Regions from separate parts of the Homo sapiens genome. Here region 2 is linked to region 1. The links come from fine-mapping of genetic effects on gene expression. A gene starts in region 1. The other region holds a variant in brackets. All regions are shown on one strand. Distances are from middle to middle. Region 1 holds the start of AFF2 (ALF transcription elongation factor 2). Region 2 has its middle 27 kb from the start of AFF2.

Region 1 (15,158 bases):
TGACTTGTTTGAGCTCCTTATATATTCTGGTTATTAAATCCTTGTTGGATGGATAGTTTATAAATATTTTCTCCCATTCTGTAGGTTCTCTTCACTTTCTCTGTTTCCTTTGTTATGCTGAAGCTTTTTAGCTTGATATAATCCCATTGGTCTATTTTTTTTTTTTTTGCTTTTGTTGCCTGTTCTTTTGAAGTTTTATCAAAAAAAAAAAAAAAAAAAATCTTTACCCAGACCAATATCCTGTAGTGTTTCCCTGATGTTTTCTTTTAGTGGTTCCATAGTTTCAGGTCTTAGATTTAAGTCTTTAATCCATTTTGAGTTGACTTTTTTGTATGATGAAAGACGGGAATCTAGTCTCACTCCTCTGCATATAGATTTCCAGTTTTCCCCGCACCATTTATCAAAGAAACTGTCCTTTGCCCAAAGTATGTTCTTGGCACCTTTGTCAAAAATGAGTTGGCAACAACTCAATAGTAAGAAACAAAACCAAATAATCTGACTAAAAATGGGCAAAAGACCTGCATAGACATTTCTCAAAAGAAGACATACAAATAGCCAGCAGGTATGTGAAAAGATGCTCAACATCAGTAATCATTAAGAAAATGCAAATCAAAACTACAATGAGATATCCTATCATCCCAGTTAAAAAGGCATTTATCTAAGAGACAGTTAGAATGGTTATTATAAAAAAAAGACAACAAATAGCAAATGCTGGTGAGGATGCAGAGAAAGGGAAGTGCTCATACACTGTTGCTGGAAATGTAAATTACTACAGCCACTGTGGAAAGCAGTATGGAAGTTCCTTACAAAACAACAGAACTACCACATGATCCAGCAATCCCACTGCTGAGTACATACCCAAAAAGAAAGAAAATCAGTATATTGAAGACCATCTGCACTCCCACATTTAGTGTAGCACTATTCACAATAGCCAAGATATGGGATCCAACCTAAATATCTATCAATGGCCGAATAGATAAAGAAAATGTGGTATATATACACACAATGGAATATCATGCAGGCATAACAAATGAAATCTTGTCATTTACAGCAACATGGATGGAACTGAAGGTCATAGGTTAAGTGAAATAAGCCAGGCACAGAAAAACAAATATTGCGTGTTTTCACTCATATGTGGTAACTTAAAAAGTGGATCTCATGGAGATAAAGAATAGAATGGTGGTTAGCAGAGGCTTAGAGGTAAGGGGAGGTGGACTATAAAGAGAAGTTGGTTAATGGGTACCAAAATACAATTAGAAAGAAGGAATAAGTTCCAGTATTCAATAGTACAGTTAGGAGACTATAATTAATAATTTATTGTGTTTAATAATAATTTAAAATAGAAGAACTGGAATGTTTCCAACACAAAGAAAAGATAAATATTTAAGGTGATGGGTATCCCAATACCCTGATTTAATCATTACATATTGTATACAGGTATCAAAATATCAAATATCAAATATACCCTCAAAATATATACTGGTATTATATATCAAAAAATTTTTAAATGTTTTTAGTCAAAATTTTTTATTCTGTTTTCAGCAATTTTTAAAATTTTACATGTCAATGAATCAATATTGATATTGATGTTTACATGTTAATGCTTCAACATTTATAGAGGACATGGTTATATAGTTCAAAGTGTCAGGAATTGCTACCTACATTTTTTGTCAGTAGGCATACTCTTCGGCACCTGGGACCTCTAAATGAACTCTTTACAATTTTTCTATATTATCCCCAGTTTGTATAGAAAGCCTCTGTTTACGCATCACAATAGCCTACATACTCTGAACCAAATTAATTGCTGACTGAGGTACTTTGGATGTCCAAGAGGAACACTAGGCCCTTTCCTAATGGACTTATTGTTAGAAGTTTCTTCCTTATTTTATGTTTTTTTAAATAAATCTCACAGAGATTATAAACTTCTTGTTCCCATAAATGGTCCTGATGCCTGTTCAACCTTTAAAAAATGTTAACTATAAACAAAATTACTGCAGAAAGTTTCTATCATCTTTTTATCAGTGAACTTCTAGAAACTACACTTTGGTGAGTGCTATGTAATGGTTCTAACTGGCTGCTTGGAGGCCTGTAATAAAGGTTAATGCACTGAAAAACCTACTCATTTAAAATATGCTTTTGGTTAAAAGCAGACACTTTGGCCAAAACTGGGGCATGTGAAAATGGAAAGAAAATACTAGGTAACATTTCCATTCTTCATTAGCTCTTGAATATGAGATCAAAAGATTTTCTTCACACTCACATTTGCCTCTGACGCATTCGAGGTGAATGAGAAAAGTAAGCAAAAGTTTTGTCTGCTTCAGAGATAGAATATGGTTGCCATTTGACCTAGGTGAAACATTTTCCCATACACAATCCAGCAGATCAGAATGGGGAAGGCAGGATTCTATCGTGATAGAAGATTTGGGGAGGCAGAAGGGGGGGCTGCATGTAGGACTTTACATATGCTACGTCAATGACACCATGTTGGAGAAAACACACATTACTAATGAGGATACTAGAAAATGAAAGTACAGCCAGAACATTTCCCATCCTAGAGCCTGTGGCCTTCTTTTGGGTTTTATTTTTTAACTGAGAATTACTTTGCCACCTTACACTCAATAGTGCCAGTATAATTTGTTCCAGGAAGGCATGCTTTAAATAAAGTGAATTGCATGTGCTTTCCAAGTAGAGCTGACCATTTTCTCTTTCAAGCAATGGTATGGCAAAGTGTCTACTTAACCTGGGACCTTAAACTGGGAGCTTAATGAACACTTCTTGAAGATAGTTGATTACACAGATAATCAATCCTCAAAAAAAGTAAATCATTCTCTTACAGAGTATTGGATGGAATTTTCATTTTTCTCCAAAGCATAAGTTTTTCCTTAATTTATGGTTCAAATGATAAGTATTTTAAAACATAAAATGGTATAAGATGCAGTGGCTTAAGATTTCAAGACTGCATAATTTGAGTTTCAATTGAGACTTGGGGGATCTTCTTATGGTTTTGATTCATATAACTAGCTGTGCAATCTTGGTGAGTAACCTGAGCCTCCACTGGACTATAGATAATCAATAAGGTTCCTGGTAGTGCTGATATTCTATGATATTTTAAAAAACCCTATATGCTGGCAGAAAAGAAAAAGGCTATCTTGGGGCCATCACCCTGCTGAGAAATGTACATGACTAAAATGTCATCACTGATAAGTAAAGTCTCAAAGCATGGCCAGTTGACCTAAGAAGATGCTATTGAGTGAGGCACAAGTGCGACACCTGGAAGTGCAGCTGGGTGAGGGATATGGCCCTCTTCCAAGCTGTGGTCTCTCAGAAGATTGTGAAAGCATTTTGGCCTGGTTGGATCCCTCATAGCAATGCAAAGTAGACTATGGGGTGGAAATGGGCAGGCACTTTTTTGCCTGTTCACAACAGATCCCATTATCATTGGTGGTGGGTCCAGAGGCATCTCATTCATTGGGGAGGTTGCAGGTTTATGGAAGAAAGAGCCTGAGGGGGGCCATTGGGGTAGTGGTGGAAAGTCTCCTCAGCCATTTAACTGTTACAATCCAGGCCAACTCTGGGTCATCCTGATCATCCAGATCTGGTTTGACTTTTGTGAAAGGAGGAAGGATGAACCACCTAGTGGCAGAGAAGCATGGCCTCTTTGGAGCAGCAGTTCCCAGGAGGTGAAGTGATTAGGCAAAAGTTCTGGAGGCTGAGGCCTCTGCTCTCCTTTCACCCACAGAACAACACAGCCTAATTGTATCTCTGATGGCCATCACTGAGCCCAAGCATCAAAGCGTTCAAGAATAATTCAGAGCTTGAGGGGCTTACTGCATTCCATTTCCTGAAAATAAAAAGGCAGAAGCAGCTAAAAGTTGACTTTAGGCAGTCATTTCATTTCTATTAATGACACCGCCGAGGATTTTATTGTTAGCAACTTATTAGAAAAATAAAAGTTTCTCACGATGCTAATAATCAGGATGCTTTAAACAAAGACACTGATTTAAATCCCTTTAAATGTTTCAGTATGAAAATCAATGATCTGAACTCCCTCCAAAAAATGATTACCACGTAGAAAGAAGTTTATATATCTTAATAAATATTACTTTAAAAGCATGAAAACTTGCAACTGGAACCCATGCCTGGTTAATATATACCCTTTTGTAAACAAACTAACAACAACAACAACAAAAACTAGAATAAAACATCCAAATATAGCTAGTACACTTAGCACTGCTGATGTCACCTAATGGGGAAGCCTCTAAGACATCAGCTCCAGGGATGATGAGAGCACACATTTATCTGGGGCTTTTTACCATTTACAAAGCACTCTCATATACATTAGGTTTCCTCTCTGGCCACTGGAAAAATGCTTGACTTCCCTCTGGAATCCAGTCCTTCAGCTCTGTATAGCTGGCTCCAGGAAGAAACTGTTGGCAGCCACACTGCTGAATGGGTTGATGAGAGCAGCCCAGGGATAGCACTCGGAGCTCCAGGAAGTAGATTTCTCAATCACCATATCAGACATGGAGATTATTGATCTGGGCAATTCAGATGACTCTTCACTTTGCCTCCCTCATCATTATAAACTACGAATCTGCATTTGGCCATGGACTGGAGGTTATATAAAGGGACTTCAAATCAAGGAGCCATAGAATGCCAGAGCTGGACTGTTTCCCACTTCCTTAATTTATACACAAGAAAATGGAGCCCTCAAGAAGTTAGAAGAACTAGCCAGGGATTCGTCGTTGCATAGCAGCATAGTCATATGCAGAAGATAACTCCCTGTGGACACCTTACAGCCCACCAACATGTGTTCCCCAACAGTTGGCCAAAGAGGTTTCTTAGCCCTAGATTTATAATCTCCAGGAAAAAGCCCCATCTGAGTCTTCTTAAATGATGAAGCAAGAATTGCTCCACCGTATTCTTGCTTCCTGTTGCCTATTAGATTGACTTTCATTAATACAAGGGCATGGCTCAGTCAACTGCCTTCCTCCAATTCAGCCACAGTTGAGATCAGGGAAATTGCACCATGAGAATTTTTTTTCTAATCCAACAGTTAACTGATGCCACTTCAGTCCCAAACTCCCAGGGTATTATAGTTCATCAGGGTGGCCCTGAGACTATAAACAACAATGTGGTAAGTAGAACAAGCACTGGATTTCATGCCCAGCCCCAGCTGCTCAGCTGTCCCACCATGTGCCCTTGGTGAAATCACTTTAACTTGTTTCCTCTACTGTCAAATGGAGAGTATGGTTAATTCTCTGCTTACCTCTCAGAGCTAAAGTGAGATGAAATACTTTGTGAATGCACAATGGGGGTAGTATGGCAGTGTGGATTAGTACATGGGCTTTGCCAGCAAACCAGCTTGGGGACAAAACCTGGCTATGGCACTTATGAGCTCTGTGACTTTGAGTAAATACTCAGATTCTGTGAGCCTTGGCTTTCTCCTACAAAATAAGTAAGTACAATACTAGTATCTACCTCAGAGAATCATGCTGAGGAGTAAATGAAATAATGTATATACAACGCTTAGTACTGTGCCTGGTATATAGAGGCTCAATCAATGTTATCTCTTTTATGGTTATGCTAAATATGTAAAAGGAATTACAGCAACATATCATCTAAAATCAGAATAACGTGACCTTTCAAATACCATAAACCTAATGAAGCAGATGATTGACATAAGGTCAGATGGTGTTTGATATTTAGGACTTCGTAGGAATCCAGAGCCAGGGACTTTAGAAGAGCTCTGAAATGGGATCATTACCTATGATAACCAGAAAACTCAAGTATAGGGTCTTTCAATCATGATGCATGATTGAGATCCAAAGTATAAGTGGTAGAAACAGGAGTTGTGAAAAAAAATTACATATGCATATTCAGGAAGTTCAGAGAATTGTCCTGACCCAATTTGAAATCAACTCCTGAGATTGCTACCTATACAGAAGCTGGTTAGATAGATCCTGGAAGGGTCTACTATGTGTCAGATACCATCCTAGGCTTTGATGACATAGACTCAGGCCCTGCCCTCATAAGGCTTACAGTTTCTAGGGAGAACTGAGATTGAAATAGGCTGAGCACTGTGGCTCACGCCTGTAATCCTAACAGTTTGGGAGGCCGAGGCGGGTGGATCACTTGAAGCCAGGAGTTCGAGACCAGCTTGGCCAACATTGTGAAACCCCATCTCTACTAAAAACTACAAAAAAATTACTTGGGCGTGGTGGCGTGTCCCTGCAATCCCAGCTACTGGGGAGGCTGAGGCAGGAGAACCTGGAAAGCGGAGGTTGCAGTGAGCTGAGATCGTACCACTGCCCACTGCACTCCTACCTGGTTGACAGAGTGGGACTCCGTCTCAAAAAAAAGAGAGAAAAGATTGAAGTATTTCTTTAGAAGAATCATTCTGGACATTGCAGCCCATGTGTGGAAACTGCCCCAAATTCAGAGTCATGTCACTCCATTCTAAACTCATGGCAGCACCAAGTGGCTCTGTCCGAAGAGGAGCCACGGTTATGAAAGGTGGTAGTCCCCATGGTGCCCATGGAATTCTTTCCAGCAAGCTTCCCCAAATGAGCTGTAACCTGGATCGTAATTTCTTCCTAGAAAGTAAGTCAGCCTGACAGCATACCAGGTCAGAAACAAATGCTTAATATTTTAAGTGGAAATCTGTGGTGTGACATGATGACATGTGTATCACACGTTGTCAATTTGTTCATTTCCTGTAACTGACATGCACAGTGCAACTTTCTTAAACTAATCCTAATTTTTAGACACTACCCGAACCTGCATGACAGTGCCTTTAGTACGACTGTACAAATGGAGGATTTCAAGTTCTTTGAAACAAAGATTAGTACCTGGAGACTACAAATTAAACTCCTTTAAAAGTAATTCAAGTCAAAAATCTCACTTTAGAAAATCTGAAAATCAGCATTTCTATAAAACCAATCCCTCTTAAAAACAATTTCTGGTTTTATCTCAGTGGATTGGGGCATGGAGTCTCAGTTTTGATCCTTTCCTGTCAGAAAAGATGGCTTTCTGTTGGCCTACGGGTTCTCCCAGTAGGTTCCTTTTGGTTGGGGTTTTGTGACTAGGGGAAATTGGTGAGGCACTGGCAGGGGTGGGGGAGACAGTCAGAATGGGAGAAGCCAACAGAGGGAGAAGGGTCAGAGGGAGAGAAGGTTGTGCCTGCAGTTTCTAAAATATTCGGTTGAACTGAGAGTTCTGAAACTGGGGCCTGAGGTGGGTTTTGCTAGGTAAGAAAGGAGCTTTTCCAGCCAAAACAAAGGCATTAGGCTGGTGAGGGGGAGTATTCCACCATAGCTAAGATGCCATAGTGAGTGGAATGAGAGGGAAGCAACTGGATCCCCACCACAGGCTAGATGACAGCTAGATGACCCCAGTATGACAGCAGCAGTGGGCCCTCCCTCCAGATAGCCTTTTTATTTCCTCTTGCTACTGCCCTCCATGCAAAGTGCTTTCTCCACCCTCCTGCTAGCTTTTTGGTGGAGGAAGCATGGCTTGGATCCAGCATCCTGCCCACATGTTTGAGGATTCATTGAAGAGCTGAGTTCTAGGGCCCCTGGCCCCATCAGAGCCACGGATGCACAGAGTGAGGAGGAAGGGAGAAAGCACACCTTGGATCAGAGAAGACAAAGCTTCTATCTTGCTCAGTAGCTGATGCTCAGTGAGCAGGTGCCAGGCCCGGCCAAAGAGGCCTCAGGGACAGCCTGGCCCCTTCAGTGTTGCCTGTCTTAACCTCATCTCTGTTTGAGGAGAGTGGCTAGGAAGTGGGGGCTCCTTCCACCCAACCCAACCTTCCTGCTTGGTTTTGATCTCAGGAAGGGAAAGCCCCTGCCCCTCTTTTGAAGCAGCAGCCGGCACCACTTGTCTCTTCTCTCCTTCCCGCAGGCACTTCTGTTCATAGTGCTGCCTCTTGCTGGCTCCTTCTGCTTCTGCTTGGTCCTCCTGCTGATTGGGAAGAAAGTGCACCAGTGAGGTGATGGGGGGCTGGAACTCTTAAAGGGGCAGCTTTATTTCTGTTGAAAATTTGTTTGCCTAGCATGTTATTTTTTTTTCTATCTTTCCCCATTAAATACAATTTTGTGAGAAAAGTAAACCAGAAATAAAGTGACCATAATCACCATTTAAATGTTAATTGTAGGTGTTCTGGCTTTCCTCTAAGGATTTTCAAGCAGATCAAGTACTAATGCTGGCAACCATCATCAGCAATCAAATCCAATTTGAGGATTTTTTACTGAAGGCATAAAGGTCGGGGGCCACAGATCTGAGCGAGGCCGTCCTTGTTGCTTTAAGGGCTCTCAGTCCAGGGCTGAATACTAGAATTCCATGAATAAATAAGTCACAGAGATAATTTGAAAATCCCCAGCACCATTTTTGCCAATAACTGTTTCTCCATAGAGTCTTTTTGACCAGAGGAGTTTACAGGTAGCCAAATCTACAAGCCACTTTGAGATGTCGTCTCCCCTTGGCTGCCCACTGGTTGATTTTCCATCAGTCAACCAGCATCTGTTGAGGACTTGGTCCCATGCAAAGTAAATAGACATCTAAGCAAAGTCCCAGTGGATGCTTGAGTTGCAGAATCTTAGAGCCTTGTTTCTCTATGTTAATGATGTGCTTTCTTTCCCCCCGTAAAACAATGTGAAAGAGACCAGACCCTGGGCCCCTTGTAGCTCAAATGCTGAAGTCATTCATGCTTGGAGCTGAGGCACCTTCTACTGGCTCCAGCCCTGGAAGAGCTTCCCAGGTTCTAGGTTCTAATCTGGGATCCCCCTCTAGGGGAAATATCAGATCTTGAGCATTTTAATGTCTTAGGGTCTCTGTTTCTTCAGGAAAAAAATGAAGTTAAAAGGTATTTGGATGATTTTGGTAATATGAGATAATACTGTAGAAGCATATTCAAATAGAAGGGAGAATGTCAGAGAAGTATGAGCCAGAGGGCTGCTGGGTGTTTTATGGAGAAACTGAGGCCCAGATAAGTGACTTGCTTGGAGTCACACACAGAGCTACCGGCACCCTGCTCTGTCAGGGCTCAGTCTGCTGTCCTTCCCAAGAGAGTTCTAGCCTTAGGATTTGAAAAATGTGCCAATACTATTCCCTCTGTATAACGACACGAAGAAGGCAAATTACATGCCTAGGACTCCAGAATGCTCATGTCCTGAAATGCCAGAAAGCGGTCCCGCCCCTTCCCACAGACCTTTCTCTGCACGGAGGCCAGGGAACCTTTCCCTCCAGGGAATTGGCTAAAGGGATCCACTCCTTCCTGGATCAGAGGTGGAGGTTGAAGGGAGTAGGAGGCTCGGTTAAACCCTCCACGTGCAGAAAGAGAATTTCAGGCCAGAAGGGAGACGGGCAGCCGGTGCGTGGGATACTGGGCACACACCCAGTGGTTTTCCCATTTCTCAGAGGAGGAGCTAGCAGAAGTCTTTTGCTCAAGGCACCTGGTGACCGTGCGAGGAAAGTGACAGTGGAACCCAGTTTAACAGTATCCTAACCCCGAACTCAAGGACCACGCAAGGGCAGTCATTTGTTCCTATCCTTGCTGCCCACTGAATCCAGGGCCTATAGCTCGCTGACCTACTAGGTGCGCGCCTAAAGGCATGCCTGGAGGGCCTGGGTGCGGGCACGTGGAGCCACGGGGCTGGTGAAGGTGACCGCCTTCTCCTTCCTGGACCCGCGTGCTACGCACTACAGACCTGAGGGATGCTCAGGCCCGCAAAGTTTGCTCCACTACTCGGGGGCTCAAGGAGCTGTGCTTGAGGTGGCAGGGGGCGACCTTCAACCCCACGGCTGTTTGTGCTGTCTTTTCTAGTTCAAAACTAATTCCCAGTGGTGGGGGTGGGCTGGGCTTCAGAGAGGGGTCCCATTCCCGAAGCCCGCGTCCTGGTCCCGCCAGCCCACCTCCTGTATCCCTGCCACGGCCCCTGCGTCCCGGGTCCGGGTCCGGGTCCTCAGCTCTGTGGCCGCTCCCACTAGCTGATTTTGACAGTGGGGGGTGGGAGAGGGTTCCCGAAAGGCAGGGGCGGGCGCGGCGAGCCCCTGCCAGATCCGGGGATGATAACGTGCCTGCTCCATGTCGCGGCTTCTAGCTGTCCAGGCTCCGCCCCCTGTGAGTGTGTAAGTGTGTGATGCTGCCGCGGCCGCCGCCGCCGCCTGTGCAGCCGCTGCCGCCGCCGCCGCCGCCGCCGCCGCCGCCGCCGCCGCCGCCGCCGCTGCCGCCCCGGCTGCCGCGCCGCGCCGCTGCCTCTGCCCCGGCCGCCCCCGCCGCCGCTGCCGCCGCCGGCCCGCAGCCAGCCAGGCGGGCGGCCCAGCCCGCCTGAGCCCGCAGCGGCTGCCGCCGCAGCGTCGGGTCGCTGGGTGCGCGGGCTACCGCGGACCGAGCGGACCCGAGTGGGCGACCAGGCGCTTGCCCGCCCAGTGCCACTGCCGCCGCTTCCTCGCCGGAGCACAGGACCAGACACCTCCAGCGCCCGCTGCTGCTGCCGATGCGGCCCGGACACTTTTAGCTGGGCGGGAGGGCTGGAGAGCCGGGGGCCGCCGAGAACCGCCAGCGAGCTGTGCCGAGAGCCGCGCCGACCCGCTGCGATCAGGGACAGGCGCCCGCCCGCCGCCGCCGCCTGGCCGCTATGGATCTATTCGACTTTTTCAGAGACTGGGACTTGGAGCAGCAGTGGTAGGTGTTGATTTTTGCCTTCTCCTTTGATGAGCGAGTCTCCTGGCGAAGTCTGAGGTTTTCGCCTTTGTTAAGAGGAGCTGAAGCTGTCGTGGGGGGCGCCCCGGACTCCCTCCCACTTGCTCTCAGCCACCTCTGGCCCCGGCCGCGCTGACTCCTAGGTCGGATGCCGGGGTGGGGGGAGGTGCGGGAAGAGGGAGGGATGCGGACCCGAAAGCGTCGCTTTGCGCTCCAAGTCTAAAGAGTTGCATTTGGCTCACATCGAATTCGGTGCCGCCCGAGGGCTGAACCGCACGACCTCCCAGGAGCTTTTCTCTCGGAGCGGCTTGCCGGTCTGGCCTCCTTGAGCCCCGGATGCCGCCCGCCCGAAATGTCTCAACTTTCCAGGTGCCCAACGCCCGCGGCGGGCCATGGGGGAAAGGCAACGGCCAGGTGCGGCCAGCAGCCCTCTGCTTCCTTGGTGGCCACCGCCCCCGCTGCCGCCACCTCCATCCCTGCGCTGCGCGGCGCGCACACCTTTCCTTCTGCCGACTCAGCCCAAGTTCCCTGCACTCCCGGGTGGAGCAGCGGCTTTGGGGGCCACCACTCAGGGGACCTTGGTTCGAGGCCGACTTCGGCGCTTGGCTTTCAAGACTGAGGGTTTTCGGAGTTGGCCCCCCAAATCCGCAGCTCTGATGTCAATGCACATTTAATTACCGGATGGACCCCCTTCGGCCTCCCACTGGGAGGCAGCCGTAGTTTTTTGTAAGGGACCTCCAGCTCAGATTCAAAGGTTGAGTCAGCTCTTCACAAAATACCCTAAACTTGTCGCTGAGACATTTTGAAAGATGGTAGAAAGGTGACTGGGGACCTGGAAAGTTGTTAACTCTCTTAGAGATGTGCGTGCGCGTGTGCATAAATACTGATATACATATCTATTAACTTTTCAAAAACTTCACCTACTACAAACATTATCACAGTTTATTTGTCATAATACTTAAACGTATCAGATTCCCCCCGCAGTCTAAGGAATTAGATGGGGAGGGGGCGCAGTGGTAACCGCTTAAAATTGCATTCTTGGTTATTGCCTTTTAAAATGTATTTAGAATGATCTGTAGTACCTACCAATAGTGCGAAATCTTTTGCAATGTTAAACTACTAGCGGCCGTTGGTTATGAATGCTGTGTATTTTTACAAGGATTTCCCCTGTTGATGTGATATTTTAGGCAATTTCCTTCTTTAAAAAAGGGTCATATGCTTAGCCAACAGCTTCATTATGCCAATCATGCCTCCTTTAGTTGCAAATCCAAGATAGTCAGAACTTAAATACATTTTATTTTACAGCAATTCCGGATAAATCCTTGAAGCGCAAATTATGCTGTATCAGTATTAATCTATAAGGCGTTTTGGATACCACGGTTTTATCAGCTCTGTAGAAATACATTGTTACATTAAAAAATGCTGTTATTTGAAAGTAAAAATTACTATAAAATTATTGCTCAATTAGATATTATGCTTCTGCACACAGCCTTTACTCTGCTTCACTAATTTATTTTGCAGACAACTGATAACCATAGCACTCTATTTGCATACAATTTGCCTAATATGTGGTGTGGGTTACATCGTTAATTTAACAGACATTGTTATAATTAATTTCATGGGTATAGTTCAAATGTTAAACATATACAAGGTATTAGGTTTTTAGAAACATGTTTTTTATATTAATTCCGGTTTAATCTTATGCATATGCAATTGCATATTTAAAGGGAATGGACTCTTTTATGTTTGATTTCTTTAAAAAAAATGATAGGCTCCCTCACCCCTGTGGGAGGCTTTCTTTTTCTTATCTTAAGGAAAATGCAAAACCTTTTTTTCCTCCAGATCCCTAACTGAGACACATCAGTTAAGAAGCATAGACTTGGACACTTCGTGAATATTATGTGAAATACTGATTAATTAGTGTAACGCATCTGCATAAATAAGCCTGTCCTTTCCCTCTGTACATGATCCAGGAAAATTTCTCCTTCTTACTGCTCGTGAGTGGCACACTTCGTGATGCATCTCTGTTTATAAACATTTGTAATGTGGTTGTGCTTTTGTGTTTTGTATAGCTCCACAGAGAAAAGGAACATAAATGTGACAATAGTGGATGAACTAAAAAGCTTGACATTGTCTTGAGTGGAAATTGGTACCTTTCCCACTTCTCTTTGGAAGTCCAGAGCATGCCAGTTACGTGTTCATTATATGTTTACTTCCATTCCTTGGGAGTAAATAGCTACTTAAAGTGATGGCCTCCACTCCCCACGCCCCCAAGCCCCCAGGAGGGCCAAGAAAGGAAAAAAGACCAGCAAAGTTAACGATCTTATTTACCTTGAATTTATTCTTAACATTCACTTATGGAACAGTAAGCTCTGAGCTGTCTCTACTGCAACCCTAGATGTCTGACAATAAATGGATCAGGACAGCTTAAAAACAAACTCATTTTCCTAGACATAATGAAGAAAGACTTTACATACACAGGCATATGTGTTATTTGCAAACACTTGACTGTAGTAAACAAAAAGTGTGTGCCCATTTATAAACACACACATTTGTTAGGGCAAATGCAAATGGAAAGGATGGGGTACTAATGATGCTGCAGTGTGCATGTTATGTGCAGTGTTTTGGAATGCTCACATGCCTAATGGAACATACCACTGGATTTCACAAACTGCAAGAATAACTTAATGGGTCATGCTCTGGACTCGATTAAAGGGCCAAAGCTCAAGTTCTTTAAGATTCTTGGATGAATGAGCAATGTTCACCTGAGTCTGAATTTAATATAAACCATTCTGTGAAAGAAAAAGATGGCACAGATGTCTGTCTGTGTGCATGAAAGACATCACTTGCTCTTAAAGAAAAAGATAAATTAAAAAAAAATCAAATTTCTTCATTTAAATCATTCCATAGACTTGTTTTTGGTAACCAAGTAAATGAATACTTGAGGTGACTGAAGATCAGGTAATGATGTCATTAATCCCCATTTAAGAGGGAAAAAAAGCAAATTCAGAGGGCCTACAAAATGTACAGCCTTTCAGTTCTGTAAGCACCTCCCACCCAGTATTGATTAGGTATTGCTTTGTGACAAGCCAAGGTTCTTTGTGGGGATGCTTACCTTTTCTTCATTGGAAGGAAGGAAAGGAAAGAAAAGAAAGAAAATACAGAAAGGGACACATTCTTAAAAAAAAGAAAAGAAAAGAAAAGAAAACCACCGTGATAGCAAAATCAGAACGTTCAAAAGCCTAGTTAAAATCGTAGTTAAGTGACTGTGACAGTGGCTGGCTTCTCACCGCAAGGGACAGCATCAATTGTTTGTAGTTTTTATGTGATGTCTCACAAATAGCCTAATTAGAGGCAAGCTTGCAAACGGGCAGTTATACAGGAAGAGACTTAAACTCACTAAACTGTTATATAAATAGAAAGTTCAAAGGTCTGTGTGGGGCTGTCAAGGCTGAGAAGGGGCCATGTGCCGGCCAGGCCTCTCCTCCTCCGGTAAAGGCAGCCCCCAGGGCCTGCCCCAGCAGTCCGAACTGCACTTTCCCCAGTTTTCTTCGACCTTGCGAGGGCGGGGCAGTGCCGGAGAAGGGGCGGGGGGCTGCTTTCTAGACAAAAGTGAACTGTTTCAGCTCCAGCCGGGCATGGCCCATGCACTGCAGCAACCCGGCTGCCTCCTCCTGTTCTGTGCGCACAGGTCTTCCGAGGCCTCGTTAGCTACAATCCTCCAGAAGAGCGGAACAGGACTGTTTATGGATGGGAAGGTGTGGGAGATGGGGGGAACACAACCTTTGCCAACTTGGAGATACTAGGGCTGTGGTGGGGTGGGGGGAGGGGAAGTCCTGTTTTGAATAAGGCCTAGAGATTCCCAGCATTTCTTGTTCTCTACCTCCATCCATTTATCTTTCCCGTTTTCCCTCTGTGGTCTCTTAAAAGGGAGACTGCCTATGGTCTGTTTTCTTTGCTAGTACAGTATGCATTCTCCCGTGTGTTTGAGCATTCATTCAACAAACCATTTTAGGTTGTGTTTCTTAAGGGAATGTGTGGGTAGGAGAAATTTAAGTTGGTGAAATTCACTAGTAAGGTCTCCTCCGCAACTCCCCAAACCCTCCAAAGAATAAAAGCTATCTCAGTACATCTTAAGAGGCACATCTATTGGACACGGAAGAAAATTATCTCATGGTAGAAATCAGTTTAATGATACATGAATTGTTTTGCTAATGATTCAGTCAAGCATTTAACAACTTTAAAATATACAAATCAAGGTAGAAAATGACTGCCTGGAAAATGAGTCCATCATTATAGACATGAATGAGATTCCATACATTTAAGCATCCTGTAGATGGATACAAATTATATTGTATTTAAACATGCTAATTATTGTTGAATAGAAATGGCTTTAATGTACTAACCTTTAACATGTAATAAATGCCCATGATTCTTAGCTAAGATTATTTTG
Region 2 (15,650 bases), 24 kb before region 1:
AGACTCCTGCAGCAGTCGACCAAGCCCAGGGACATAATTGAATCTGGAGATTCCTGGGGCCTCGTTTTGAAAAAGACTTGAAATACACATAGGAAGTAAGGCACGAAAACAAATATTTACTTGTCTCTAAAAAAAAGAAAGAAGAAAGAAAGAGAAATACTTTCTGCTATATTGACTTTTCTCTTTACTAGCCTACTTAGTGAGATTTGAGTGTATTCACAATGAAGAATCTAGAGCAGTAGACCTGTGGGATATAATTTTAGGGGACTTTCATGTTTGTATAACCAGGTATTCCAGTTCTTTTCTCAAAAGTCAATCTAACAGATAAATCATCTTCCAAAATGGTCATAGTCAGTAAACAAAAGACTTTCAAAACACCTTAATAACTACAATCACTTTCTAATATAAGGCAACATCATTTTGATCTCAAAAAGAAACTGTTGCGTTTTGTGACAGAAGGAGAAACTGGATACAGACTGATCTCTCTTAGATAACTGGAGAAATCCATCTGAAACTGTTAAGCCTCTAGAAGAAGATGACTTCTAATTCAGAAAGTTTCTTTTTTTCTTGCACTGCTCAAAGATTGGATTTGGATCATTTCGTTTTCTCCCCTGTTTAGTTTCTGTGATTAGGTCCACAGAGTTTAAGAGATATGAGTCATAAACTTTGAAACACAAAGACCTCTGATTCATCTAGAATTTGTTGAGTAGATGAGTCAGTATATTGATTAACTTGAATGGCTACTGACACTTTTCCCTTTCATTACTAGTCATTCAGACACAGAATGGGTGGTGAGATACTTTTTCATACTTCTTTATCATCCGATTTTGTTTTCTGTGGTTTGTTAGCTTTTTTTTCTTGGTTATCTATACAGAGATGAAAACTAAGCGATAAACAAAGGCATTGATTGCGACAGTGAGTTGAATCACTTGGTCTTTAATTATGAACTACTTGGAGACTGTTAAAAATTCATGCAGGCTTGTATTCATAGTGGTACAGGTTTAAAAGTCATTAAGAAACAGCATGACTGGGTTAGATAATTAATATTTGGCTTGAAAAATAAAAACATTGCAATTACGAACAGCACGACCCATGGTCAATTATCTATCACATTTTTCCCAAGTAAATTCTAAAATCCAAATGAATTTATTATGAAATTAGCCATTCATTCATTCATTCATTCATTCATTCAGCAAACATTTATTATTTTTAACTACTGGGTGTCAGGAACTCTGCCAGAATCTGTCAAGGATCAGAGATGAAGAAAATCCCATTCCTACCCTCAAAGAGCTTATAATCTAACAAAGGAGTTAATACCTCTGCACACAAAATGCCCTTTAATACAAGATACATGTAGAAAATGAGCAAAGAGGCATCAAAGTAATTCAAGAAGAGATATACTTTCAATGGGGGAATATAGGAAAAGCATCATAGAATACATAGAGTTCTGAAAAGTAATAGGGAACAGAGAAGGCATGATCAGAAAGTAAAATGTCATGAAACATAAGGTATATTCAGGGACTGAAACTAAGATATTTTAACAACTACAAATGCATGACATAGGGCACTGCCTCTCGAACTCTATCATTTGTAAGAATCACTTGAAGATCTTGTTAAAATGCAGAGTATTTTTTGGTAGGTCTGGGGTGGGTTATGAGATTCTTCATTTTTAGCTAGCTCCCAAGTACTGCCCATTCTGTTGGTCCATGGACCACATTTTGAATGCCAAGGTCCTAGGGCACTGTACTAGAAGTCAAAGACTGAAGAGTGCTCACAGTCAACAGTGTGATACAGACAATAAGGGCAACAAGATCTTATAGGAAGGTGAAGTCAGTAAGCACTGGAGTTATTATAAAATGTTTCTTAGAAGAAGTAGAGCTAGAACTAAGATGTGAAAGTATAGAGGACTCACTCAGTCTAACATGTTGGAGAGGCAGAGATTCTAGGTAGGTAAAATATGGTGAGCAAATATGCAGAGGAATGCATATAGTCTGTCCGGGCAACAATAAGCAGACCAGTCTGGCTAGAGTGGAAGCTTTTTGGAGAGGATTAGTGGGTTACTATGCTAGAAGCATAGGGTTTAGACCAGATCATGGAGGTCCTTGAGAGTCAGACTAAGATGCTTCAAAATCAGCTTGAATGCAGGCTTGGCATGATGGAGATACAATATTGAAAAGTCAACAACAACAACAACAAAAAACCCCACAAAACTACCATCCTGTTACTAAGCCATGTACCCATAGCACTGGACCTCCCTGAAAGGTGCACTTTAAAATTTTTGTGCAGAGCTGCCATATGGGTACCCGGCAAGTAGGGCTGGTAAAATGAGTGCTTCACTTGTTGTGGCTTCCATAGAGAGTATATTTACTAATGTGTAGTACTACTGTATACCAGGAGGAAACATAAAGAATCAGAGATACTTAAAAAGCTAAAGATTAAGAGGATGGTCAGGTGGAAGACTGAGATTTGGAAGGCAATCATTTCAGCACTGGAGGATGGTAAAATTGCCCAGGAAGGAAGTCTGGAGCAAAAGTTCTTAACATTTTCTGCAGGGTCCTGGACTTCTTTGAAATTCAATTAAATTATGGCCCCTTTTACCCAAATGCATAAACAGATGTACACACAAATACAATTTGGCATAAACTTACCAAGGTTTCCTGGAACCCTCAGAAGCTTTTCCATTTCTTCCTAAGATTAGAAACCTTGCTTCTAAAGAGGAAAAAAAAAAAAAAAAGTGAAGGACAAAGCCTTGGAAGAGGAAGCAGTGAAGAAAAACAAGGAGCCCTCAGGCAAGAGGAGAAACCATATATTTCTTGTAAGATTGCCTGAGCCAAGGAAAAAGAGTTTCTAGAAGGAAATGTCAACATTACAATAGGTCATAGTTCAATGAGGAAGAGCATGTTGGATCCAACCATGTTGGATCATAGTTGCTTGCAAAAGAGAATGTTGAGTAGCATGCTGAAAATATAAACCCTAAGTTCAGGAGTAAGTAGACAATGAAGAAGTGGAGTTGGAAAGAAAGAGGATTATAAAAAGAGAGATAGTAGAAAAAATGAATAAGGTAGAGAGGAATTTTAGCATGAATGAGAAGAAAACTGAGGAAACTTGTGTCAGTAAATTAAGGTGTGAGGTTGTCAACTGAGGAGGGTTTGTAGAGTTGGAAGCTTGATGAAATGTTGGAATTGGCTGTCATAAACATAGGGAGTCCAGAAGGGATGAAATCAAGATCTTCAATAAGTATTTGATATATTACTAATGATGAAATATATGAAGCTTTTGAGCTTACCATGTTTCTCTCTGCCATCGTTCCCCAAGGATTGGCCATTTATATCTGCCATGGTCAACTGCAAGGCTAAATTCTTGAGGCAAAATGCTGGGCATATATGCTTCAAGTCATAATCTTCTCATGTTACTGAAAAGCTGTTTTCTGTAAACAACTTTCCAAGAGTTGTTACTTCACTCATCGGATGAAATTTCTCCCGTGAAGAGGCAGTGCTAACTGTATAGATCCACTGGACAGGCAGCCATTGACAGTGAAATAAATTAAAAATTTCATTGAAATTAGTGTAAACACATGCATATGGGGAAGAATTTCATATTAAAATGTGAATGTAAATCATGAATATCAGATAGCCAATCAGCAAGAATTTGAAATATATAACAGTTATTGTCATACTACCCAGAGTAGTGATAGTCCAATTTGGAACATTTGAATAGAGGAAGATTTTAGTTTCCTCTGCTTCCTGGCAAGGGTCTAAAGGTCTTGCGAGGGAAGTTATATGGATGAAAAAGAATAAAGATTGATCCAGGGGAGCATGGCGAGACACAAGCACATTTTGAAGGCAAAATATGTTGCTTGTGCCTGCCAAAATTGTGAATGGGTTTGTTAGATGGATTGAAATGTAACAACTATCTACACAGTAGGCAGTCCCAAAATCATCTGATTCACTTTTATCAGGTCTGATATATGGCACCCATTGAGATTACAGGTGTAAAGCTTGGTATGAACAGTAGCTTGTCAGAGAGGGCAGTTTCCCCTTTCTCCTTTTGAACTGGTGATTGCAGGAAGGAAGTGTTGCTGTTTTGATAATGGCACTGAATCTAGCCTTAGCAATTAAGGCTTCTACCTATGGCAAAACTTACATTTAATTTTAATTCATAAATAGTTAGATTTTTGTGACTCCACATGAATTTTATCGACATTTGTCCACATTACAAAAATGCAACACCAGATGACACATTTTGGCACTGCATTTAATCTCCATTTGAAAGACAGAGAATTGTAATGGGGAGTTGGCAGCGGTGTGTATCTGCATTTCTAGCTGGTTGTAGCATTTTACTTCTCTTTGAAGCTCTAAAAGTCATCACTTCTCATAAGCTGCAAGAAAATGGCTGGACTCTCTGAGATGTCCATATTTTACCATTGTCAATTTATCTGGAAGCTGAGAACACACTAATCAGTCATCTATGGCATTCTTACAAAATAACTGAACTAGAGAGCTGTGAAATACAGGGTCACTGCCTACCAGCCACTCAGTTGCTCTGAATAATGTGCAGGCAACATCATCTCCATTGAAAACCATTTTCTAAAAACCTAATTGCCCTTCTGGGGTTATTCTAAGAAGAGAAGGGCATAGAACCCAAGCCTTTGAAGAGGAGGACATGAACTCTGAACCCTCAGAGGTCACAAATGTCGCACAGTGACAGTGGAGCACACCTATGGAGAGCAGGAGAAACATGCTCAGCCATGCATGACCATCCAGTCAAGCATATGGCAAGAGCAATTTTCCCATTTGACATCTTCTTCCTTTTGGGCATCTCACAATCAATCAACCACTATTTTTGAGGGCCTACTATGTGCAGGGCCTTATGCTTGTGTCTGTGGTGATCTACCAAACTGGCTGGATTCAGAAAGGACAGCACAGAGGCCTTTGCTATAACTTGTCCGCCTTTCACCAGGATTTCCAAGGTTTCTGAATAGTCAAGTATAGTTATGGGGGCAGGCTTAGTGTTTTCTTTAATTGAAATACAAACATATAAAGGAAGCAGAATCTTCTCATTAAAAATTGAATATTAATGTTAAAACATTTTGTGTAGAACTAAGTTTTATGTGGAGCAAATTTTTGTTCTGAGGGCAAACTCCATGATACAGAATTTGAAGAGGAAGTTGGGAACTAACTTATCTGTGCTTGAAAAGTGCAGCAGAATACCAATTATGAAGAATTAGCTGCTATCCCCCCCCAACAAAAGGGACACATATTGTACTGCATTCTCATTCTGTTCTTTTCATTGACACGGGGAAAGGATACTACAACAGAAATGAAAAGGGAATGAGAGCCAAATTCATGGCTTGTGAATTTCACATGCTGAGATCTAGAATGTCTAGGCATGCGACCAGCCTGAATCAGCCTCCTCACCCACTCCCTTGGTATATACTCTCTGAGGGGCAATATAGTATCATCATCAAAGTGTGACCATCACAGACAGGCTGTATGAGTGAAAATCCCAACTCCACCACATGCTAGCTATGTGACCTTGGGAAAGGCCCTTAACTTCTCGGTGCCTCCGTTATTCCACCTGCAAAAATAGTGCCAAAAGTAGTACCTACCTCACTGGCACTATGCTTCCTGTACAGCCTGTATAACTATGAGCCAAATAAACCTCTTTTCTTCATAAATTAGGCAGCCTCAGGTATTCCTTTATAGCAACACAAATGGACTAACATGGGAAGGGTTGGATTACAGGAACTGTAGGCAGGTTCTAGGGTTTCAATAACAGATGTGACTTGTGCCACACTTTGCAGGTAGTGGACTAGGCAGCAGTGAGCCTCAAAGACATCTCTCTTGAACCCAACATGGCTGAGCAGCTATAGATTTGAAATGGATGAGGATGTCCCTAGGTTGAAGATACAGAGGTAGCCTCTCAGCTTCTGTCAGTCCCAGAGCAGCAAGAAAGAGGAGCTGGATGGTTTCCCATACACCAGAGATGGAGTCCAGGACTGAGAAAGCCAGAATGGGGAGAGGGCCCACAGAGGACAGTGAGAGTCAGAACAGTGACAACTTGTGTGGGTGTGCTATGGTTTGTATGTTTTTCACCTCCGAAACTCATGTTGAAATTTAATTGTCATTGAAACAGTATTATGAGGTAGGACCATTAAGAGGTTATTAGTCTTTGATGGCTGCACCCTCATGTATGGGATTAATGCTGTTATACAAGGGCAAGTTCCATTCCTTTTTTGTCTCTTCTTCTGCCTTCTGCCATGTGAAGATGCAGAAAGAAGGACCTCACCAGATCAGATGTCAGCACCTTGACCTTTGACTTCCAAGCCTCCATAACTGTGAGAGAATACATTTCTGTTCTTTATAAATTCCTCGGCCTCAGATATTCTGTTGTAACAAAACAAAACATACTAAGGCAGGGTGCCAACATGAGAAGATGGAGCCTGCTGACGACCAGTACACTTGACCCTGGAACTCCAGAGGTAAGTGGAAAGAGAGAGCCCCTGACCTGACTGAGATGGTATGTCTTCCATCTAGCAAAGTGGAGACCACTAAAAAAGGAATTAAATTGATTTATCAAAAAAGAAGTCACAAATTTTACATACTTGTGTTTAAGGCCTGAGATTCACGCCAAGGACTCATGTTTAGTTTTTTTTTTTTTTTTTAATAGTCACAACTATACTGTGCACTAGTTAATATTGTCCTCACTTTATAGATGGGGAATGTGAAGCTAAGGAAGACTAAGCAATTTATCTAAGGTCACAAGCCTAGCAAGTGACAGAGCTAGAATTCCAACCAGGTCTCTGGATATAAAGGCCATGCCTGATCTTCCCACTCTGGCACTCTGCTTCTCAAGAGCTTGGAGGGACTATGCAAGTCTAGATCTCAATAAAGCAGGACTAAGATGGTCTCTATCAAATGATATAAAGCACACTTTATATCTTCTCCTGAACCTCCTTCTCTGCCCACAACTTGAGCAGGTCCATTCCATGTGCTGAAATGAACCTCCTAGCCAGGGCAAACGCCTTAGCCTTGCCATACCTCCATCTCACCTTTAACTTGTGCCTTCTTGAATCTATCTTCTACTGATAATTTTCCATATTAAACCACATAAAATGATAACTCTCCAATTAATTTAAAAGATCTAGGATTGAACAGAAGAAATATTAAGCTAATACACAGATTTAGAATCAAAAGAAATCAGGTCCAATGTCAACCCTCATAATAAGAGACCATGCTAAAATAAACCATAGGAGGTACAGTGCAAGTATTGGAGGGCATGACTACATTGTTTTTTTCTTTTTTTTTTTTTGATAATAAAAAGGCACCTGGTAGAGAGCCAATATTGGAGTCAAATTTACCTTATTTTCATGAATCTTTACACAACTATCTAAGCCACAGAACTTAAACACTTCATAGAAGCACACATGAGGTGCTTTTATTTGTAAAAATCTCCCCTACTTATGCAAAGAATATTGAATCTTATTTCCTTTCTATGTTTGGAATTCTGGCTAAGCTTATTTAAATCTTTACTGACTTACCTTTAAGCAGTATCTGATTTGAATGCTTCCATTGCCTAATGCTAATATTACATTTTTCTTGATGCTTTTGGTTTC[G/A]CCTTACTTCTTAGTCGGGTATGTCATTTTTAGAAATAGATGATCATAGTCAAAATAATGCAACAAGGGGTAAATATACACAGAGAAATGTTATTTTGCATTTTCTATAGATGATAAGACTATCCCAGGTATGCATGCACAGGACTAAGCAGGCATAATTTTCACCTTTTGAATATAGTATAATAAAGTCAATGCCTGATTATCTGTATGTACTGTATTTTTTTTGTGAATTGTTTGCATTAATTTTAATGCCTCTATCAGCTTCCCACAACTCCATGCAACATTCCTCCAAATCAACTTCCCCCATTGACTGGAATTATTTACATTTTCATTTGCTGAAAATACTGACTTATAAAACACAATTAGGAAAGTAGGCTTAATTAAAAGACAAAGTATTCTAAGCTAAGATAGAGAACACATCCAAAGCCAAACAAATGACTTAGGGTTTTTGGACTTCTTGAGTTATCTGTACTACAATGCCCCTCTCTTTTATGGGTCATTGAGAGTTGGCTGTAATTTCCATTTGGTGTTAAATCATGAACATATGAGTAGATATAAGCCAAGAAGCATGTACATCATCCATATGGAGCTGTTACAGAAAATACCCTGCTGATGCTGAAACAGTGAAAATAAGAAGCCAATCTTGCTGGAACAGTAAAAATAAATGTGAAGATCGTGAAGATAAAAGACCAGAGTATAGAAAAGTTGACCTTAATTTTCTTATTTTTTTCTATGCTACTCATTGTTCTATTTTTCAAATAAAAATTGCTGTTGAATACAGAGATTTGCATAAAATTCATGAAAAGTTGCATGCTAGAGGGCAGGACAAGAGAGCTTTTCAGCATAAGTGCACATATTTGTATCTCTCAGAATAATTAGTCATAGCGAACCAAGCAAACTACGTTTTTACCGTGGTGAACATTGCAAACCATTATTCAGTTATCTGTGAAAACTTCAAATGCCCTTTTCAAACACTTTTTAAAAATAGAATAGTGAATCTGTGTATTTGAGAAAAATACAGATAAGAATATGCTATATACTATCCAAGTAACTTATTAAGTCTTAAAAGAATTTTTCTTGGAGACTAAGCATCATATTTTGTAAAATTATACAGATTTAAAATGCAATAAGGTCATGTTTATCCTGCAGAAATTTGAAAACTGACATTGGTTTTAAACTTTGGTCAAATTTATTCTTGCTTTTTGACTGGGTCATTTTAGTAGTTCATTTAAAAATCATTCTAAGTAAAGTACAGTATTTGTTGTATTATTAAGGAGAATAAAGAGGAAAATCGAACAGTGAAATCTTTTTTATTTTTTCTATCATGGTTTTATTTGACTTTACATGGCTACATGGCTGAAATATCAAGGTTGGGTTATTTTTTGCATTATCTGTTTATCTTCCTTTTATAGATAAATAGCATTAGGATTTTGCTGTTGGCAAATCACCTCTTGCTTTTGATCATGATACAAGTTAACTCTCTAGCTTATGTCCAGCTAGAAAAAAAAAAGGAAACTAGCATAAGAATGGCAAATGCCATGGCTCACTCCTGTAATCCCAGCACTTTGGGAGGCCGATGCGGGTGCATCACGAGGTCAGGAGATCGAGACCATCCTGGCTAACACAGTGAAACCCTGTCTCTACTAAAAATACAAAAAAATTAGCCTGGCGTGGTGGTGGGCGCCTATAGTCCCAGCTACTCGGGAGGCTGAGGCAGGAGAATGGTGTGAACCCAGGAGGCAGAGCTTGCAGTGAGCCGAGATCGCGCCACTGCACTCCAGCCTGGGCGACAGAGCAAGACTCCATCTCAACTACAACAACAACAACAACAAAAACAACAAAAAATGGCAAATGCCTTATTTATTGACAGAAACAGTGGACCAAGACATTTGAAATCAGTTAATTCATCTGAAATAGTGGTCCCAGGTGGACCCAGATTTGAGACTTCAGTTCTATTTAGCACAACAGGGGTATAAACTAGTCAGAAATATATTATTTCAGAAACCTGAACCACAAAGTGGTCCAGGAAACAGCCTGCAAAGGTGGAAAGAGCAATGGATGAAGACTCAGGAAACCTAAGGTCAAGTCCTACTACTTTCACTAAGAAACAGGGAGACTTTGGCCAAGTCATTTCCCCTCTCTGAGCCTATGATTCTCATCTGCAAAGTAAGAACAATAATACGTCTTCTGTTTTCTTGGGAGGATAAAATCAAATCAAAGTTTTGCAAACAATAAAATGCCAGAGCTTTGTACTTCATTCTCAGTATTGAGAAAAAGTTTTGCTATTCTCCTATAAGAATTAACTATTGGTTGTTTATCTTTATGTCATGTGTAATATATAATTTGTTGTTGTTTAATAACTGTATAATGTTCCTATTCCACTAGGATGCCAGCTGGTATAGTTTACACTGAAGTCAAAACAGATAAATACAGAGATGAATCATATCAGAAAGAATAGTGGAAGCATTCGTAAGTGTTATATGTTAATGGTTATGCCCAAATCAGTTTCCATACCCAGTATTTCCATTAGGAATTTATGAAAAGTGGTTTGATTTCTTTGAGCTTCTAAATTCTATTTCGATGCCTTGTTGTTCCCTAATCCTAATTCCCTAATTTTGAAAGCCTATAAACCATCAACAGTCTTTACAATTGATTGACTAGAATATGCAGAGGGCACTGTGGGTATTCTCAAGTGGTGGCACTCAAAAAGGAACCAGGTCATTATCTGTACTCATTTTTTTTTTCAGTGACACAATGTTGCAGTGACATTATCAGTCTCTTAATCACTCAGTCAGACAATGTCACCATCTCTAAGCACTAAGCAAGCAACAGAGCACTATAGTTACGTAGGCTGTGCCTTGCTTGCATACTCCCTACACTTCCGCTGAGTACCCCACACCATCTTTCCAAATACACAAGTAGGGCTTTGTACCCCTTCCTTAAGCCAGAGGGTGTAAGTACAACAGAATGGTCAGAATGAGAAAAACTTTGAACTCCATATTTTGGTTATAGTAAGTAGTCTTAAAGTGTCAATGACAATTATTGTCATTTAGAAAGCATTTGGACTACAAGTATTCTTGGATGTCTTTCCTAGAACTGCTAGTGGCACCACTTAACTATTTTGGAACCATTGGCATACACATTGTTGGCTGGAAAATTCAACAGCCATTTCCAACTCTCTTCTCCCTGCTTCCTACAGATGTTGGAAGGCTAGGTACTTATAGCTAGGTTTGGCCAGAATTTGTTTGAGACTTGGGGAAACTATTGTGGTTTCCTGATAACAAAGCACGTGTGTCTTCTCCTTTTCATTCTTCCTGCTAAATTGAAGACATAATGTCTGAAGCTATAGCAGCCTTCATGTGACCATAAGGTGATAAAACCTCACCACACACACACACACACACACACACACACACACACACACACACACACACACAAACCCAAAGGCCAAAACTTTGAGTGTAGCAGAATAAAGAGATGGAAAGAGCCTGAATTCTTGAGGACACTGTTAAGCTGTTTGCTCAACAATGAGACTGCCTTACTTCATACTTAACAGTGAATATCCTCATAGATTCAAACTATACTCATCATCCGGTATTAGTTACTTTCAACCTAAAGCTTTCCTAATGAATATAAGAAGTATTCATAGGGAATATTGGCAGTTTTAGAAAGGTGAATAACATTTTTCCTTAGAAATGCCCATGTCATCCATCACTTAGATTGCAAAAGCAAAAGATTAATAAAGTATATACGAAGGAGGAGCCTGATAGTAGAATTTTTTTATTAGACATCATTTTCATATCAAAAATTTTGAATTGTCCATTGCTAATGGGAAGTCCTCTCACCTTAAATTTAAATTCTTATCTTTTAATCTCTATTGAATTATAGCAATATTTTTGTTATTTTCTACCCTCCATAAAAGGGAGTAAACTTAGTATCTACAATGTTGGGATAAAAGGCATCTTTAAATCTCTAAAAAAAAACATAAACAGACATCAAGTAGTAATTGTAGTACAGCAGCCTGCAACCTGCCTGCTAATGTAGCCTACAAAAATGACAAAAAAAGGAAGAAATGAATCAATATAAAAACCATGCCCTTATCATAGCTTAAGGACAGAGAATGCCCAAACTTCAAAGTAACTGTGAGTGAAAAGATAAAATTCACCTATTCCCAGAGTTTCATCTCTCGTGGTCCTGGCCCATGTCTGTCCTACTGTAAGGCTCTGTGGCCAGCAAAGGCAGACTGTAAGCAAACAAACAAACAAAAAACCTCAGGGAAGACAAATGAGGGAAGCTAGGAAAATGTGCTAAGTTTATTTTAAATCTACTTCCAGAAAGAGTAAGTCCACTTTAATCCCGAAAATACTAAAATAAAAAGTTTCTAGGAAGATGAGAACATGAACTATAAGGAGAGAACTTAAAATTATACATAATTAAAAGGGGCACATATGGTTTAAAGGAGTCAAGCACTCTTTAAGCAGGCAGGCATGATGTAAAAGAGCAGGCATGATATGAAGGAATTGGCTTCAAAACACATAGCTTTGGCAGGGAGAAGAAAAGTAAGAAGGAAAGGAAAAGAAATATTTGACAATTGGGTAGTCAAAAGGAATACAAAGGCAAAGGGGGGAAATTTAGGGCCCTGCAAGACAAAAGAGAACCACATCATCTAAGCACTTACAACTCCCACATCACAGCCAAAGTACCTGGTCCTTTCTATACTGACAAAAGAAGATGGCATTTAATTTGCAGTCTTATAAAAATAACTCAGTACCATAAAAATGAACAAAAGAAAACTGAAGTTAACAAAGCTATGACAGAAAATTAGGAAACAAAATATCATATATATGAACTGAGGAACCCCCCCCCCGAAAAAAAACCTATGAATCATATAAAGAAGTAAGTCAACACACCAAATAGAATTAAATAAATTTAAACAAGCTTGTGAGGCTATAAAAAACTACCTTGAGTCAGAAAGTCAAACACTAAAAGTAGAAATGAACTAAACACTGGAAGAAGTAAGAGAGATGAGTAAACTCTGCAAATAAATGGAAGAAAAATACAAAATTATCTTATAAAAGAAGAATAAATTACAAGGGATCCAAGGGAGAAGGAATGGGTTGAAATGAAAATGTAATAAGGGGCATTGAAAAAAAAATGCAATAAGGGGCAGAGAAAAAAAAGCAAAAAGATTAAAAGACCACAAAATATAAGTAAAAAACAGTCAAAAGGAAGGTAGTGGAAATGGAAGAGAGGTAAAGAAGGAATAATATTTCTATTATTGGAGTCCCTGGAGAAAAAATGCAGAAACACTGAAACAGGACTAATATTTAAAACTATGAAACAAATATCTTCCCAGAAATAGAAAAATGCCTGAGTTGACCCATGAGTACTTAGGGAAATTAACAGAATTTTCAACTCTAAAACATGACCTGGTAACATGATTACATTTAAAAAATAAAAGTAAAATCTTCTAGGCCTCTAGGCAAAGCGATCGATTAACTTACAAAACAATTGGACTGGCACAGAATTTTCATAATCAACATACAAGCAGAACAGCAATGAAGCAGCATTTTGAAAATAAAATGCTCAATGAAATAAAGTATAAACCAATAATTGTACATATTAATACAATCAGGCTCTCCTTCAAGTTTCAAGACTAGAAAACCAGTTTTCAACATTCAATAATTTAAAGAATTTGATATTCATCACCTTGTTCTGTGGAATACACTAGGGGATAAGTTTCATCCAATCAAGTTATGACTGTGAAACTTCTGCAAAAGAACATATGGTGACATATTAAAACTATAAAAGTACAGCTAAGACAAAAAGTATGAGTGAGGGTGACATATACACACACAAAAATCATCTATTGTGATAAAGTGGAAATAACGTAACTAAAATTGAGAGGAGGAAGCGTGAAAGAAAAAATGTAAAGGTCACTGCTGTGTATTGAAGAATACAAATTGATTTTCTCTATTGTGTTTATTTTTTTCAATTGAATAGAGCTTTCTTCTAATCTTTATTACTTACTTTCTTCTCTTAACTTTGCATCTAACTTGCTCTTTATTTTCTAGTTATTTAAGGTAGAATCAGGTTACTAACTTTAGATCTTTCTTCTTTTCTGATGTATACATTTAATGATATACATTTACCTCTGCGTGCTACATTAACTGCATCCCACAGATTTTGATATTCAGTATCAAAATGTATTCAGTTCAAAAGACTTTTTAATTTTTCTTCCAATTGCCTCTTTGATCTATGTGTTATTTAGAATGTGTTGTTTATTTTCCAAACATCTGGGTATTTTACAGATACCTTTTTGTTATTGATTTCTATATTAAGACCATTACAGTCCAAAAATACACTTGATTATTTCTATTCTTTCAAATGTGTTGAGCTGTTATTTCATGGTTCAGAATATGGCCTACCATGTGCACTTGGAAAGAATGTGTATTCCGCTGCTGCTGGGTAGAACATTCTATTAATATCAGTGAGGTAAAGTTGGTTGATAGTGTTGTTCAGGTCATCTATATACTTTCCGATTTTCTGCCATCTTGTTTTATCAATAACTCAAAGAGGCGTATTAAAGTCTTCCACTCTAAGTATGAATTTGTCTATTTCTCCTTTCAAATTGATCAGTCTTTTTGCCTCATGTATTTTGAAGCTCTGTTATTAGATGCATATACATTTTCTAATTGTTATGTCTTCTTGAGGAATTAACCATCATTATGTAATTTCCCTTTTTCCCTCTAATGATATTCTGAAGTCTACTTTGCCTGTAATTAATACAGTTTCCTTTTAGTTAATGTTTGCATGATATATCTTTGTTCATCTTTTAATTTTAACTTAACCATTCATTTGTATTTAAGGTGGGTTTCTTATCAACACAAGGATATATATTAGTGCTAAAAGTCATAATTTAGAATACAAATATATGACTTATAAATATTTATGCACCAAATAAGATAGCAACCACCTTTATGAAGCAAAAAATACAGGAGATGGCATTAATAATGGGAGAGATTAATAAACTAATTCCAGTACAAGGCAGATCACATTGACAAAACATAAGCAAGGATAGAGAAAATCTAAACAACACAATCAATAAAGTGTATTTTATGGATATATATTGAATGTCCTTATAATAGCAAATACGCATTTTTCTGAATCAGTTGTGGCACAGTCACAATACTGATCAATACTGGAATGTAAAGAATAGCTATACCGGCTTGGTTACATTCAGAAAAAGCTATAACAATAGTAAAAAGTAAAAATCAAGTAAAAATATTGCATGCAATACTCTAATCACAGTATAATGAAAGAAAACATTGTTATTTAAAAAGCCAGAAAATAGAAAAGGACCTTCAACCTGAAATTCAAAAAAATCTTTTTTTTTTTTTTTTTTTTTTTGAGACAGAGTCTTACTCTGTTGCCCAGGCTGGAGTGCAGTGGCACAATCTTGGCTCACTGCAACCTCTGCCTCCCAGGTTGAAGCGATTCTCCTGCCTCAGCCTCCCGAGGAGCTGGGACTACAGGCATGCACCACTATGCCTGGCTAATTTTTGTATTTTTAGTAGTGATGAGGTTTCATCATGTTATCCAGGCTTGTCTAAAACTCCTGACCTCAGGCCATCCACCCGCCTCAGCCTCCCAAAGTGCTGGGATTACAGGCATGAGCCACTGCACCTGGCCAACAACTCTTGAATATAAGAGAAAATGTAAATTGATGTTATAGAATTTAAAAATAAAATAATGACATTAAAAACATTTCTTATCAGAATCTATGGAATGCACTCAAAACAGTGAATTAGGGGATAATTCACTACATTATACACTTACTGATAAAAGTGGACATTTGAAAATAAATGAAATGCCCAGCTCTAAAAAACTAAAAGGAGAAACACTAATAAATAAACAACAAAGTAAACAAAAAAAAATGAACAAGGAAGAATGTAAAGTTAAAAATAGAAATTAATAAAGCAGAGAATAGAAAAAAGTAGGTCTAATTAATCATTAAAAATTATTGGGGATTTTT

Evidence for each region. PIP is the estimated chance that this variant, and not a neighbour inherited with it, causes the effect.
Region 2: its variant is the best candidate, but not a certain one, in a credible set for the expression of AFF2 in whole blood (TOPMed, PIP 0.62).

The regions. Positions count from the first base shown.
Region 1 is chrX:148,490,458-148,505,615 of GRCh38, forward strand. It overlaps AFF2 (ALF transcription elongation factor 2), which reads left to right and starts at 10,160. Exons shown (of 21, transcript NM_002025.4): 1 at 10,160-10,687. The coding sequence starts at 10,641. RefSeq lists an enhancer at 10,820-11,697.
Region 2 is chrX:148,465,774-148,481,423 of GRCh38, forward strand. No RefSeq gene overlaps it. Among named protein-coding and RNA genes, the nearest start is that of AFF2, 27 kb to the right of the region's middle. The variant G/A (reference allele first, on the strand shown) is at 7,616.